2 separate regions of the Homo sapiens genome follow, and region 1 is linked to region 2. Evidence: fine-mapped expression QTL. Tissue or cell type: whole blood. Region 2 holds a variant in brackets; the other region holds the start of a gene. All regions are shown on one strand. Distances are between the middles of the regions.

Region 1 (8,000 bases), 820 kb before region 2:
TGCTAGGATTATAGGCGTGAGCCACCATGCCTAGCCTAAAATACATTTTTGTCATGAAGTGTTTATAAGAGGTGAAAGAAGTTTTTGTTGTTTTTGTTTCACTGTGCTTTTTCATTGACAAAAAAATGAAACAAGGGATTATGGTAGAAAAAGTTTTAGATTTCTGAGTAAACCAAAACTGATTATGATGATGAAGAAGGAAAATATTTTAGAGGGAGGAAACTAAAAAATAGACACATTAAAAAAATGGGTCAGTTATTCAGTGGAAACTGCATTATTCAAAAACCAGACCTGGGCTTTCCTAGCAATGTACTTGTTTAGGAAACAAACTGATGTATTAGGTTTACATTTGATTCCTTTAAAATAAACACACAAAGAACCTTGATCCATAGAAAAACTACATAAACAGATTTGAAAAGTATTTATCTAACAGTTTCTTTATTTTACTCACCTAATGGAGTTAGTGGACCAAAATTTGAAGTTTTGGAAGAGATCCAAAAACATTCAAAATAAGTTCATGGCCTTCTAACAGGGCAGTAGAACATGATCCAACAGGATTAGAGACAGCCAAGTAGGAAAGACTTCTGCCTAGCAAACACTGACCCAAGTCCAGAATATTCTCTGCATAGCAGCATTATATACATGAGTAGGTCCTGGGTTCATTTCAGTTTTCTTTTCTTTTCTTTTCTTTTTTTTTTTTTTTTTGAGATGGAGTCTCGATCTTGTCGTCCAGGCTGGAGTGCAATGGCATCGTCTCGGCTCACTGCAACCTCTGCCTCCCTAATTCAAGTGATTCTCCTGCCTCAGCCTCCCATGTAGCTGGGGTTACAGGTGCCTGCCACCATGCCCGGCTAATTTTTGTATTTTTAGTAGAGACAGGGTTTCACTGTGTTGGCCAGGATGGTCTCGAACTCCTGACCTCAGGTGATCCGCCCGTCTCGGCCTCCCAAAGTGCTGGGATTACAGGCGTGAGCCACTGCACCCAGCCTCATTGCAGTTTTCTATTATGTTGATGGAGGCTGTCTCTAAGGAGCTCTCTCATACCAAATGAATCCTGAGCCTTACCAAAAGGCAGGGTTTTTTCCTTTGTAAATGTTTACATTCATATTCTAATAAATAGTACACTAATAATGGATTTTATGTATCATCCAGACCCATGAATCCCAAATCTATATCTCTGATCTAGACCTCTTCTCTGCACTTCAAGTGCCTCTATATCCAATGGCCACAGATGTCTAACAGGCATCTCAACTTCATGTGATGTCTCTCTGATAGGAACATTATTTCCACCCCAAACCTGTTCCTCTCTGTTTTTCCAGTTTTAATAAATGACTCCACCATTCACCTGATTTCTCCAAGATGTATCCTCAATTATTCCCTTTCCTTCATACCCTGTATCTATTTCACCAGCAAGCTCTACCTTATTTGATCTGCTTCCAATGCATATCTTGAATCCATCCACTTCTCTCCATTTCTGTTTTCCTAATCTAAGTTGTAATTATTTCTTGCCTGGGTCTTCTCCCTGATATTCTTGCCTCCTTACTCTCAGCTTAATACAGAGCATCCAGTGTGCTCTTTTAAAAACTTTACAATCAGCTCACTTACTTTTCAGCTTGAAATGCTTTGAAGCAGAGCAGTGATCTGGGTCCTGCCGACTGCCCCAATTTCCACCTGGCTCATGCTCTGCATGCACTTCCTTAAAGAGGCCAAGACCTCTCCCACCTCTGGGCTTTTCATTTGTTCCTTCTGCCTAGAATGCACTTCCCTCCGCTGATTCATTCTTGTCCTTCTGGCCTCTGAGAGCCTTTCTCCCAGTTACCTTCTCATGACCCAGTTCTTTCCTTCATTGAACTAATCACGATCTGTAATTATATTTTTTGGTTTTTTTTTTTGTCTGTCTTCTCCCTGTTAGAATGTAAGCTCTATGACGGACCTTTTCTAACTTGTTTGCCATTGTGTCCCCAACTTGGAGCCTAGCTCATGCCTGCTACATAATGGGTGCTCAATAAATATTTGTTAAATGAATGAATCATACAGCAGCTCAACTTGGATTATAATTTAGATACTCTAATTTATATTCCAGTACTTATCATGCTACCTCAAACAAAAATGGAGGTAAGAAAAAAAATACTGATAGCCAAGTCCTCCCCTCACTCCACCAAAAAAGAGGGGTTGTTGTATGTGTGTGTATACATTTACTCAGTTCAATTCCAGCTTAACACCATTGGGTATTAACTGTGTATATGATACTGTACTACAAGTTGGGACTTCAGCATAAATTAAATGATACCTGCCTCTAAGATGAATAAAAGGACATGGGCAAATACACAACTAGCCACAAGTCAGCTGTTGTGTTATAAGCAACTGTGCTTGAAGTAAATTAGCTAACGCCAAGACAGATAGCAGCATAGTCTTAGGATCCACTAATAATGCATTATTAAGACCAAACTCTTCCAAGGACTTGGGAGTAAGCTATGGTTCTGTTCTTTTCCAGCTGGCGTTTTTTAACATCCCCTTGATGGCTTACATGTGTTGGAGCTTGCTGCAGCGGTGCTTTGGTCACAACTTCAGGTCTCATCTCCATCAAAGAAAATACTTGAAAATTATGCCTGTTCACCTACTTATGCTACTGCTGTACATCTGGCAGGTTTATTCCTGCTACTTTCTTTATGCAACATACGGCACCCTAGCTTTTTTATTCTCCCCTTTGCGGACCTGGTTGACACTGCTGACACCTGTTCTCATTCGTTATGTGTGGACACTGAACTCCACCAAGTTTGGAATCTTCATGGTGCAGTTAAAAAGCCACCTGAGCTCCTGAAGGCCATGTCTCACCACTGGCAGCTGGGCAGAAGCCCAGCCTCTGTGTCTGTAGCCCAGGCCTCTACCCCAGTAGCAGGTGGAGGGCCAGGATTGGTGGGTGAGCTTTAGGGAGCAGCTGCTCGTTTGGAGTCCTGGACGTTGGAGGGATTACCCACTACTGATACCTGCAGAATGGACTGCAGAAAAGTCTCAAAAATAATGCCTTTATTCCTTCCCTCCCTAAGGAGGCAAAGAGTTGATTTACCTTTGTGAAGAGAAAACCCTTATCTAGGACATCCACAGGGTAGAGGTTGGGTGTGTGTACGGGAGTGTCTGAGGCCCAGTGTGTTTTTTAGGGTTACCCCATGTAAAGCACTTACCGCTGTGCTTGGAATTCAGCAGCTGTCAAAGGTGCAATTTCAGGGGCAGGGAACCTTTGAGGATCTGGGCCCGACCCTCACTACCCCTGAGATATTAGTTCCCAGGCCTGTTTTCCCACAGGATTGTGGGCTCTCTGCTTCCTTAGTCGGAAGTGTTTTCAACTAATCAAATAAATGAATGAATGATGAATAAGAAAGACGGTGAGCCTGAGGCTTGCTTGTGTAGCCTGGCCTAAGGGGCAAGAGAAGGCGTGGCCTGTCCTGGCCTCTGAGAGTGGGATGGTTGGTGCTGTACCTCAGGGGACAGGGCGGGGCGGGAGGAGGCGGGGCCAGGCCTGGTCTCTGATAACGGGATGGGTGGTGCTGGACCTCGGGCGGGGCCGGGCCTCGTGGCGGGAGGAGGCAGGGCAGGGCCTCTGGGACGGGGCTGGACGGCTTGTTGACGGAAACGAGCCCTTGACGCTGTGGCCCGGAAGTGGAGCGGCTGTCGCAGTGCGGCTCCGGCAGTGGCAGCGGAGGCCTGTGTTTGCGGCCTTCGGCAAGCGACTGAGATGGCGAGCGCAACTGCACCTGCAGCCGCAGTCCCCACCCTGGCTTCGCCTTTGGAGCAGCTCCGGCACTTGGCGGAGGAGCTGCGGTTGCTCCTGCCTCGAGTGCGGGGTGAGCTGACGGAGTTAGAACGGGCGACGGCAGGGGCGGGCTCGGGGTCGGGGAGAGGCCGGGCTCGGGGTCGGGGAGAGGCCGGGCTCGGGGTCGCGGAGAGGGCGGGCTGGGGCGGCGGCGGGGAGCCGGGCTTGGGCGAGGGAGGTGGCTCCGCTTACCTCAGCTTTTCCATTCGCCACCGTTCGGCCCCCACACGCCACACCCACAAGTCGGCGAAGCCCAGGAGACCACCGAGGAGTTTAATCGAGAGATGTTCTGGAGAAGACTCAGTGAGTGCGCCTCCTTCCGGGCTCCCCTTGCCTCAGTTCCTCCAGCGTCCCGACCCCTTTTCCTCCCGCTGTCCCCCACGGAGGGGACTGCTCTCCCCCGCTGCATCCTTTCTGTGAGGTACCTTACCCACCTCAGCACCTGAGAGGGTGAAATAGAATTCTAACCTCGACATTCGGGAAGTGTTTTTGAGAAGTCTCGGTCGGTAAGGGAAGTCTTCCAAGTCCGTGCAGCACTAACGTATTGGCACCTGCCTCCTCTTCGGCCACCCCCCAGATGAGGCAGCTGTGACTGTGTCAAGGGAAGCCACGACTCTGACCATAGTCTTCTCTCAGCTTCCACTGCCGTCTCCACAGGTGGGCTTCACTTTCGTGGAATCCTTGGGCTGCCGAGTTACACCTTAGGAATCCTCTAATTTTCTTTCCACCTTTTGCACGCACGCCAGGAGATTTCTTTTCTTCATCTGTCCAGTGAGGTTACCGTTTTTACTTCACAGGATTGTTGTGAAGACCGAATTGCCAAGTGCAGTTCCTGGCGCGGAGTAGGCAGGTCTTATAAATATTGGTTCAGTCTGAAGTTTATCCTGGTTGTTTCCCTTCTGATAATTTTTTAAGCACTTTTTATTTGCTGGGTGTTTTCACATACTTGATGGCCATCTGACAGATGAGCAAGGAGGCTCAGAAGCTCAGCTTAAGATTTAAAAAAAAGCAGGGGGGCTAGAATTTAAATCAAGGTCTATCTGATGTCTAAGCTACCTATTCTGTTATACTGCATAATACCCTTTTTATATTATTTTTTATATTTAATCAGTAACATATGTAGATAGTACAAAATTCAACAGATATCAAAGTGTGTTAAGTTTACCTTTCCACCCACTTTCTCATTTTTGTCTCCCCCAGTTCCTTTTGCATTATTCCACGTATATTCTGTGCATATATACATTCATATACATTTATCTGTATGTGTCAGCTTCTTTTTACACAAATGATACATAAACACTGTTCTGGACCTTCCAACTTAGAATTACTGCAAACAGTGTCGTGATGAATTACCTAATTCTGTGTATGTGTGTATATTGGTAGAAAAAATTCCCGGAAGTAGAATTGCTAGAACAAAGATTTATGCATTTTAAATATTCCTTTATTATAAAACTAATGAAAGTAAACATGTTGGCTATGACCACGTATGCTCTATGCTCAGTTTTTCTAGAGTTGTGTATGCTTAATATAGGAGTAAGATTCTTTTAAAATGGCATATTCATTGCCTTATTTGATTTTCATAGTCAATTGTTTTAATTTTTCAGTCTACATATATAGGTGTTTGGAAAGGATATAAATATCTTCTGCTGCATGTACCTACAGTGATAAACTCTCTCCTCCTACATACCTTTGAGATTTTTTTTTTTTTTTTGAGACAGAGTCTCTCTCTGTCACTCAGGCTGGAGTGCAGTGGCACAGTCTGGGCTCACTGCATCCTCTGCCTACCGGGTTCAAGCAGTTCTCCTGCCTCAGCCTCTCGAGTAGCTGGGATTACAGGCACCTGTCACCACGCCTGGCTAATTTTTGTATTTTTAGTTGAGACGGGGTTTCACCATGTTGGGCAGGCTAGTCTCGAACTCCTGACCTCAAGTGATCCGCCTGCCTTGGCCTCCCACAGTGTTGGGATTACAGGTGTGAGCCACCGTGCCTGGCCTACCTTTGAGATTTGTGATGAGGAAACAAGAGATGAATTGTATGAGAGCACTTCAAAAGATTCATGGAAAATACTTATTTCAAAAAGAGTAGTTAATATTACCTTATTTTTCTTATCTGCTAACCCCTTTCTTTCAAATGCACTTAGGACTTGCTGCTAAAACTCACTGCAAGTAAGATACCACAAGGAGGCAGCATAGAACTGATTTTCTATACATGCTCAGGACAGTAGTTTCACTCATAGATGAAAAGTTAGAATTTGGATTTATTTGAAATATATACAAATATTCAAGTATATACATATATTCAAATAAATACATATATGTATATATGTGTGTATATACACACATACATACACATGAATCATCATTGCCTTCTTGAGATCTCACCACTTTAGTCCTACTAAAAGATGGGTGGTTGTTGGTTTTTTTTTGTTGTTGTTGTTGTTTTTTAAATTCCAATCTGTATGGAATGATACTTTAATAAAATTATGTGCTCGGATGTTGAATAAATGTCAAATTGCCATAAAAGTTTCTAAACACTCTCAGTCACTGCTTATCTCATCCCTGACTGGTCACAAACAGTTTGTAGACTGGCTCCAACCTGGACCACATTTGTATAGTATTGACTTAGAATTTAACAGAAAATTGAGGACAAGGAAGATGAGAAAGCCAGTGACCACCTAGAAGGAAAATAGTTAACATGGAGCATTGTCGAGTCCATGCTAGTTACCTTTAGTTACATATTCTGATTCTGTTAAAAAAAGAGAGAGACCTGGTTAATGGTTTAATAACCATGGTCTGTCAGTTGGTCTGTCTGTCTCTCTCCCTCCCTCTCTTTTCTGTAAAGGGCCAGTTAGTAAATATTTTAGATTTTGTAACCAACTACCCAACTCTGCCCTTATAGAGCAAACACAACTACAGACATTAAAACCAGTGAGTATGGCTGTGTCCCAATACACTTCATTTCCAAAAACAGGCAGTGGGGCCTGACTTGGCCTGAGGACCACAGTTTGCCAGCTCCTGGTCTAAGATATCATGAATATCTTGGGATACAGAGTATCAGGAATAAGTTTTTTCCTGCTGTTTCTTAATGGTTTATTGAGTTGTCAGCCCAATATCTACTATATAGCTAACTCCTCCCTGGTATGTGATGAGTATAGTAGGCCTGCCTTCATACCAGGACTTCAGAAAATGTTTGATGATGCTGTAGAAATATCTGCCCTAGGCCGGGTGCAGTGGCTTACACCTGTAATCTCAGCACTTTGGGAGGCCAAGGGAGGTGGATCACCTGAGGTCAGGAGTTCGAGACCAGTGTGGCCAGTGTGGCAAAACCCCATCTCTACTAAAAATACAAAAAATTAGCTGGGTGTGGTGGCGGGTGCCTGTAATCCCAGCTACTTGGGAGGCTGAGGCAGGAGAACTGCTTGAACCTGGGAGGTGGAGGTTGCAGTGAGCCAAGATTGCGCCATTGCACTCCAGCCTGGGTGACAGAGTGAGACTCTGTCTCAAAAAAAAAAAAAAAAAAAAAAAAAAAGAAAAAGAAAGAAAAGAAAAAGAAAAGAAATATCTGCTCTATTCCACAGCAGAAGGGTTGACCACTTTGATCTAATCTGTTTCCTTTTTCATAGGAAACCCAGAAGTTCTGTGAACAAGTCCATGCTGCCATCAAGGCATTTATTGCAGTGTACTATTTGCTTCCAAAGGATCAGGGTAAGCCACATAAGTGTTGCATTTATCGTGTAGATCTTTGCTAATATTGTGGATTATGTCTTGTGACTTTTACCTTTACCCAACTTGAACATGTAACTTTCTCCCATAAAATACAGTGAAGGATAATTTTGTAATGTAAGTGACTTATATAAACAAGCCATTATTCTAAGATACAGATGCTTTGTTCCTATGACTTCCCATCTCCCCTGCCTTGCCTGACTCATAAGGCTTTTAATTCTCACAGCCTTCTCCCTCTTCAACCCGTTTTAACACCACAGATACTGGCTGGCTCTCAGCCCCATATGCAGGCTCAGGCCATCCTTACTTTCCTCCACCCATGTTATATCTCACCCTATTTCTGAACATCTGCATAGGTTAAATGGCCTCCAGCCCTGCCTGTAGAATCATGCATTGATTATAATCATGCCAAAATTATAACTGAATACATGTCATGGATCTTCAGGGTTACTCAAGTGGCTTAAACT
Region 2 (8,264 bases):
AACAATTTGATTTTTAATCTATAATAGCAATTTGGACCAATAGCTCTCATATTTATTTTTCAAACCAGCATTCTCTCCAAGAGGAATGTGTCCTTACAAGAAATTTAGTAACACACCCACACCAGTGAGCCAAGGTACTTCAAATGAATGTTAAATCAAACTTCCAGAGAAAATGCCATAGTTTTTATTTAACATGTATGTATACCTATGTGTGTACATATCAGTACAAGCATACCTCATTTTATTGTGCTTCACTTTATTGTGACTCACAGATACTATGTTTTTGTTTTTGTTTTTGTTTTAATAAATTGAAGGTTTGTGGCAACCTGGCATCCAGCAAGTCTACTAGCACCATTTTTCCAATAGCACATGCACACTTCATGTCTCTGTGTCACACTTTGTTAAATCTTGCAATATTTCAAAGTTTTCCATTAATATTATTTTTTCTTACAGTGATCTGTGATCCTTAATGTTACTACTATACTTGCTTTGGGGCACCATAAGCCATGCCCATAGAAGATGGCAAACTTAACAAATGTTTTATGTGTCCTCACAGCTCCATCAACCAGCTGTTCCCCCAACTCAGTCCCTCTCTTTGGGCCTCCCTATACCCTGAGACACAACAATATTGAAATTAGCCAATTAATAACCTTTCAATGGCCTGTAAGTGTTCAAGTAAGAGGAAAAGTCACATGTCTTTAACTTTAAATCAAAAGCTAAAAATGATTATGCTTAGTGAGAAAAGCAGGTTGAAAGCTGAGATAGACTGAAAGCTAGGCTTCTTGAGCCAAATAGCCAAATTTGTAAATGCAAAGGAAGAGTTCTTGAAGGAAATTTAAAGTGCTACTCCAGTGATCACATGAATAACAGGAAAGTAAAACAGTCTTCAGGCTGATATGCAGAAAGTTTTAGTGGTCTGGATAGAAGATCACACAAGACACAGCATTCCCTTTAATCAAAGCCAAATCCAGAGCAAGGCCTTACCTCTCAATTCTGTGAAGGCTGAGAGAGATAAGAAAGCTGCACAAGACAAGTTTGAAGCTGGCAGAGGTTGGTTCATGAGGTTTAAGGAAAGAAGCCATCTGTATTAAGTCCACTCTCATACTGCTATAAAGAAATACCTGAGGCTGGGTGTGGTGGCTCATGCCTGTAATCCAGCACTTTGCGAGGCCAAGGCAGGCAGATCATCTGAAGTCAGGAGTTCGAGACCAGCCTGGCCAACATGGTGAAACCCCGTCTCTACAAAATCAGCCGGGCATGGTGGCATGTGCCTGTAATCCCAGCTACTCGGGATGCTGAGGCAGGAGAATCACTTGAACCCGGTAGGTGGAGGCTGCAGTGAGCCGAGATCACGCCATTGCACTCCAGCCTGGGCAAAAAGAGTGAAACTCCATCTCAAAAAAAAAAAAAAAAAAAAAAGAAAAAAGAAATATCTGAGAGTGGGTAATTTACAAAGAAAAGAGGTTTAATTGACTCAGTTCTGCAGGCTATAAAGGAAATACAGCGGCTTCTATTTCTTGGGAGGCCTCAGGAAACTTACAATCATGGTGGAAGGCAAAGGGGAAGCAAGGCATCTCACATGGCCGGAGCACGAGGAAAAGAGTGAGGGGAAGGTGCTACACACTTTTAAACAACCAGATCTCATGATAACTCTTATCCCAAGAACAGCACTAGGGGGATGATGCTAAACCATTCATGAGAAGCCACCCCCACCAGATCCAATCACTTCCCACCAGGCCCTACCTCCAGCACTGGGGATTATCTTTCAACATGAGATCTGGGCAGGGACACACATTCAAACCATATCACCATCTCCATAACATAAAAGTGCAAGATGAAGTAGTAAGTGCTGATACAGAAGCTGCAGCAAGTTACCCAGAAGATCTACCTGAGATCACTTATGAAGGTGGCTACAACAGATTTTCAATGTAGATTAAACAGCCTTCCACTGGAAGAAGATGCCATCTAGGACTTTCATAGATGGAGTAAAGTCAACGTCTGGCTTCAAAGCTTCAAAGGACAGGCTGACTCAGATTAAAGGATAATGCAGCTGGTGACTTTAAACTGAGGCCCAATGCTCATTTACCATTCTAAAAATCCCAGGATCTTTAAGAATTATGCTAAATATATTGTGCCTGTGCTCTATAAATGAAACAACAAAGCATGGGTGACAGTACATCTGTTTACAGCATGGTTTACAGAATATTTTCAGTTCATTGTTGAGACCTGCTGCTCAAAAAGAAAAAAAAATCCTTTCAAAATATTACTGCTCACTGACACTCTACCTGATTACCAAAGAGATCTGATGGAGATGTACAGGAGATTAATGTTGTTTTCATGCTTGCTAACATCCAGTTGGTAGCCCATGGATCAAGGAGTAATTTGCACTTTCAAGTGTTATTTTAAGAAATACATTTCATAAGACTATAGCTGCATGAATAGTGATTCCTCTGATGGATCTAGGCAAAGTAAATTGAAGAACTGAATGCCATCATTCTAGATGCCATTAAGAACATCTGTGGCTCATGGGGAGAAGTCAAATTATCAACATTAACAGGAGTTTGGAAAAAGTTGATTCCAACCCTTGATTTCAAGCTGTCAGTGGAGGAAGTAACTGCAGATGTGGTAGAGATAGCAAGAAAACTAGAATTAGAAGTTGAACCTGAAGATGTGACTGAATTGCCGCAATCTCAAGATCTTATGGATGAGCAGAGAAAGTGGTTTCTTGAGATGGAAACTACTCCTGGTGAAGATGCTGTGAACATTGTTGAAATGACAACAAAGGATTTAGAATATCCCATAAACTTAGTTGATAAAGCAGTGGCAGGATTGGAGAAGATTGACTCCAATTTTGAAAGAAGTTCTACTGTGGGTAAAATGCAGTTAAACAGCATTGCATGCTACAGAGAAATCTTTCATAAAAGGAAGAGTCCACTGATGTGCCAAACTTCATGGTTATCTTATCTTATTATAAGAAATTGTCACAGCCACCTTCAGCAGCCACCACCCTGACCAGTCAGCAGCTGTCAACATCAAGGCAGGACCTTCCACCAGCCAAAAGATTTTAACTTGCTGAAGGCTCAGGTAATTGTTACCATTTTTTTTTTTAGCAACAAAGCATTTTTAAATTAAAATATATAAATGTTTTTTTCCAGCCATAATGCTATTACACACTTGACAGACTACAGTATAGTGAAACATAACTTTTATATGCACTGGGAAACCAAAAAATCTGTGACTTGCTTTATTGCACTATCCACTTTATTGCGGTGGTCTGGAACTGATTCTGCAATATCTCCAAGGTATGCCTACATATATATAAACCTCTGCTTTTAATGATACTGTGAGGGCCTAGAATTTCATTTGGAGTTAATGTACACATTTGACAAACTTGACTGTTTTGAGAACAATGTTTTTAATCCCTCAAGTTCTCTGTCTGCTGATCAAAATGGACATTAACATCCTAACATACTTTGCATTTTCCTAGTATCTACAAGGCCAGATATTTTTATCTTTTAATTTTTTGAATTTTTAAAATCTAATTTTTTTAATTAATTAACTAATTTTTTTTTTTTTTTTTTTTTTTTTGAGACAGAGTTTCGCTCTTGTTGCCCAGGCTGGAGTGCAATGGCGTGATCTTGGCTCACCGCAACCTCCATCTCCCGGGTTCAAGTGATTCTCCTGCCTCAGCCTCCCAAGTAGCTGGGATTATAGGCATGTGCCACCACCCCGGCTAATTTTGTATTTTCAGTAGAGACGGGGTTTCTCCATGTTGGTCAGGCTGGTCTGGAATTCCCGACCTCAGGTGATCCACCCGCCTTGGCCTCCCAAAGTACTGGGATCACAGGCGTGAGCCACTGCGCCTGGCTGCTAATTTTTTTTAAAGAGATGGGGTCTTGCTCTGTTGTTGTGGCTAGAGTGCAGTGGGATGATCATGGCTCACTGCAGCCTTAACATCCTGGGCTCTAGTGATTCTCTCACTTCAGCCTACTGAGTAGGTGGGGACAATCGGCAATTTTTTTTTTTTTTTTTTTTTTTTGTAGAGATGAGGTCTCCCTATGTTGCCCAGGCTGGTCTCAAACTCCTGGACTCAGGTGACACTCCTGCCTCATTTTTCTGAAGTGCTGGGATTACAGGCATGAGCCTGTAAGGCTTTATTTCTAGAAGCCTTTATTTCATGTAGAAGGCTTTATTTTATTATTTTTTTGAGACAGAGTCTTGCTCTGTTGCCCAGGCTGGAGTATAGTGGCACCATCTCAGCTCACTGCAATCTCTGCCTCCTGGGTTCAAGAGATTCTTGTGCCTCAGCCTCCCAAGTAGCTGGGACTATAGTTGTGAGCCATCACACCTGGCTATTTTTTTTGTATTTTTAGTAGAGATGTGGTTTCCTCATGATGGCCAGGCTGGTCTTGAACTCCTGACCTCAAGTGATCTGCCTGCCTCAGCATCTCAAAGTGCTGGGATTACAGGCATGAACCACCGCGCCCGGCCACAGGCTTTTTTAACATGTGGTGCACCAAAGATTTTTGTATGTAAAATTTTGTGTAAATGTATTTTCATTGTGGAAGCTAATACTTGCATCAGATTTTCAAAGGATTCTCTGACCTAAAATAAGTTAAGAATCACAGCATTAAACTTGTAGAGTTCCTCC[A/G]TTAAAAATTAGCTTCCCAGGCCAGGCGCAGTGGCTCACACCTGTAATCCCAGCACTTTGGGAGGCTGAGGCAGGCAGATCACCAGGTCAGAAGATCGACACCATCCTGGCTAACACGGTGAAACCCTGTCTCTACTAAAAATCCGAAAAATATGCCAGGTGTGGTGGCAGGCGCCTGTAGTCCCAGCTACTGGGGAGGCTGAGGCAGGAGAATGGCATGAACCCGGGAGGCGGAGCTTGCAGTGAGCCGAGATTGCACCACTGCACTCCAGCCTGGGTGACAGAGGAGACTCCGTCTCAAAAACAAAAAACAACAATAACAAAAAATTAGCTTCCCGACGACAGGAACCATGTCTGTCCCATCATCTTATCTTAGTTCCTACCAAGTAGTAAATAATAAATGTTGAACAAATAAAAATAAGGAAATGAATAAAGAATGGATGAACAAATCACTAATTTATTGCCTCAGCTCACACTATCTCTTCTTTGCCCAGCTTTCTAAGGGTTGGGTCACAGTAGCTCATATGACTGATAATGAGTCAGAGAGGTAATAAGACTTGCTCAATGCAGTTATCACTAAACATGGCTGGGGGGAACCTTTGTAGGAGTGAAAAAGAAATCTTAAAGATGCAAAAGACATTTGTCTTTCTGTACATTTTTAAAGTAACATGTGGCTGGGTGCAGTGGCTCATGCCTCTAATCCCAGCACTTTGGGAGGCTGAGGCAGGATGATTGCTTGATCCCAGGAGTGTGAGACCAGCATGGGCAACATGGAGAGACTCTGCCTCTACAAAATACAAAAAATTAGCTAGGCATGGTGGCACACACCTGTAGTCCCAGCTACTCAGCTGGCTGAGGTGGGAGAATTGCTTGAGCCTGGGAAGTCGAGGCTGCGGTGAGCCGTGATTGTGCCACTGCACTCTAGCCTAAGTGACAGAGTGAGACTGTGTTTGAAAAAAAAATCCACTTTTATGGAGTTTTTTTGAGGCATAGGTTTCCTGGGGGCTTTGGGGTGCTGTGTACTTCTAGGTACTAAGAGGAAAGGCCCAGAGAACAGGCTGCTAAGAGCTTGCTCCAGGTCCCAGGCTTAAGGGGAAAAGGTAATATTTATTACCCTTAAAGTTCCCTGTTTGGCTGTCCAACTCAGCTTATAAAAGTAAGAATGGAGACAGAAATTCAAATAAGAATTCTGCCCAGGAGTAAACACTGTGGATCTCTACTGCATCTTTTTGGAACCTGAGTATATTAGACAGAGCACAGAGGCTACTCTTCCCTAACATCATACCCTGACCTTCAAAGGGGTTTAAACATTTTTATTATCCAATTTCTGCATTATGCTGGCCATAAAGAATCATTTCTATTTATAAGGGAATTATCCACTAAGATTGATCAGGCTATTGTTGAGGACAGATTCCATCTCTGGAATGGCTGCATCTATTCTGCTGAGGGAACTTTCTGCCATGGATGGCTTGGCAATGAATTACCAGAAATACTCAAGAGGAAAGCAAGTTGCCTTCTGTCTCCACTTTACACACAGCAGAAAACCCAAGTGGTTATGGAATACAGTGAATTACCCAGAAACAATCAGTTACCAGAAGCTCTCTAGGATTACAGTGATGACTAACCTCAGAGATGAAGCCTTCCAAGAATCTCTTCTCAATCTTTTTTCCTTTTCTTTTTTTTTTTTTTTTAGACAGAGTCTTGCTCTATCACCCAAGCTGGAGTGCAGTGGCACGATCTCAGCTCACTGCAACCTCCATCTCCTGAGTTCAAGCCATTTTCCTGCTTCGGCCTCCTGAGTAGCTGGCTAATTAATAACTGGCTAATTTTTGTATTTTTAGTAGAGACAGGGTTTCACCATGTTGGCCAGGCTGGTATCAAACTCCTGACCTCAAGTGATCCAGCTGCCTTGGCCTCCCAAAGTGCTGGGATTATAGGCGTGAGCTACCATGCCTGGCCTCAAGAACCTCTTCTCTAAACCAGACCTACAAATGATATTCTTGACAATGGAATGGATTACTTGAAGCACAGAAAACAGAAAGGAAGTTAAACAAACATGAATACAACAGGGAACTCTTCCATATAGCTTTTATGCTGGGCAAAAGAGCCCTAACTGTGGGCAGAAGTTGTTCAAACTTCATTACTCAACGTTAAAAAAAAAATGCTTCAGTGGGTACCTACTATGTGTAAAGCATAGCACTGGGCACGATGAGAGAACTAGGGTGAACAAGATGAGAAGAGTCCATGATCTCTAATACTAGAGATAAAATATGAACACTAATAACTGGAATGCAGGTGGAAAAGAGGTACAGATAATTTAGAAGAGACAGAACATTTGGCTAGTGGCAGTGGGGTCTTGTTGCTTCTGCTTGGTGGATTAAGGAAAGAAGGAAAGAAGGTTAGGGCCTTGGATGCCCAGCTAAGTAGGCTTCTTTTCTTTTTCTTTTAATTTCCCTTCCTTCTTTTCTTCCTCTCTCCCTCCCTTTCTTCCTTCCTAATACTTTACATCCTTAAAAGTTTTAAGTAGAGAACTGAAGACGATAAGAACTGCTCTCTGGAGAAATTAATACGGTAGTAGTGAAGTTTGTAGCAATGGGAATTGAGAGACAGAGCCAACAGATGTTTAGGATATAAATCAACAGGTCCAGGCAACTAACTGTTGTGGGGATCACTAAGAGGGAAGAGTCAAAGGTGACTTGGAGAATGCTGATGTCATTCAAGAACAGGTGCCCAGGAGAGAAATAGAAGAAGGTCGGACAGATGATGTGTGGTTCTGGACACAATGAAGTGTTAGTGAAGCCACCTGACAGGCTGTTGGAAATGTGCGACTGAAGCCCTGAGGAGAGGTCTGGATTGCTGAAGCTATAGATGTGAGACTATTATGCATACAAATGAGCTGATGCCATGAAAGTGGATGAGATCATCAAGGGAGATAGCAAAGGAGGAGGAAAGAGAAGGGTAAAGGGCAGAACCTTAGGGAATACTTGCATTTAGGATAAGAAAAAGACCCTGATGACGCCATCAAAGAAGGAATCATCAGAGCAGTAATCTGAGAATCAGCAGACTGTCACAAAGCAAGAAAGAGGCTCAAGAGGGTGTAGGAGGTCACAACAGAAAATGCTACCCAGAGGTCAAAAAGGATGGGGCTTGAGAAAAATGCCAGCGAGACATCGAGGAGCATTTTTCACTAGACTTTTGGTGGGATCAGAAATCAGAGGTTTCAAGTGCAACAGCTAAAGAGGGAACAAATGGGCTATTCAATTCATATTTGTTGGTGTCCATCTGTCTTTACTGCTTGACTCTTCTTTTTCCTTCCTGAACTCACCATCTGTTCACTTTCACTGCTATGTGCAAATTTCTAAAGACCTTCATTTTAAGGATTCAGCAGATACTGACAAATATTGACTTAATAAATCTCCCTAAGAAATCCTAGATTCCTAAAAGGGTGACTGCTTGTTCACATTTTGTTTCTCAAGCAAAGATATCCCAAAGACAAGTGAAATGGACTGCGGATAGAGAGGGCTGACTGTAAGTGCACCACTGAATAAATGACACTTCCAAAGTCTTCCTGACTATCACAGAGACTCTAAACTTTTCTAAACACTCTGCAGAT

What was found. PIP is the estimated chance that this variant, and not a neighbour inherited with it, causes the effect.
Region 1: it holds the start of CCNDBP1, and the variant in region 2 is fine-mapped to the expression of CCNDBP1 in whole blood (TOPMed, PIP above 0.99).

What each region holds. Positions count from the first base shown.
Region 1 is chr15:43,181,766-43,189,765 of GRCh38, forward strand. CCNDBP1 (cyclin D1 binding protein 1) reads left to right here and starts at 3,638. Exons shown (of 11, transcript NM_012142.5): 1 at 3,638-3,842; 2 at 4,055-4,114; 3 at 4,389-4,468; 4 at 7,434-7,515. The coding sequence starts at 3,734. TMEM62 (transmembrane protein 62) reads left to right here. Exons shown (of 14, transcript NM_024956.4): 14 at 2,495-3,379. The coding sequence ends at 2,821. LOC124903478 (a long non-coding RNA gene) reads right to left here and starts at 4,122. Exons shown (of 2, transcript XR_007064604.1): 1 at 4,004-4,122. RefSeq lists silencers at 3,364-3,663, 3,884-3,973 and an enhancer at 4,144-4,243.
Region 2 is chr15:44,004,075-44,012,338 of GRCh38, forward strand. All of the region lies in intron 1 of FRMD5 (FERM domain containing 5), which reads right to left. Among named protein-coding and RNA genes, the nearest start is that of WDR76, 180 kb to the left of the region's middle. The variant A/G (reference allele first, on the strand shown) is at 4,652.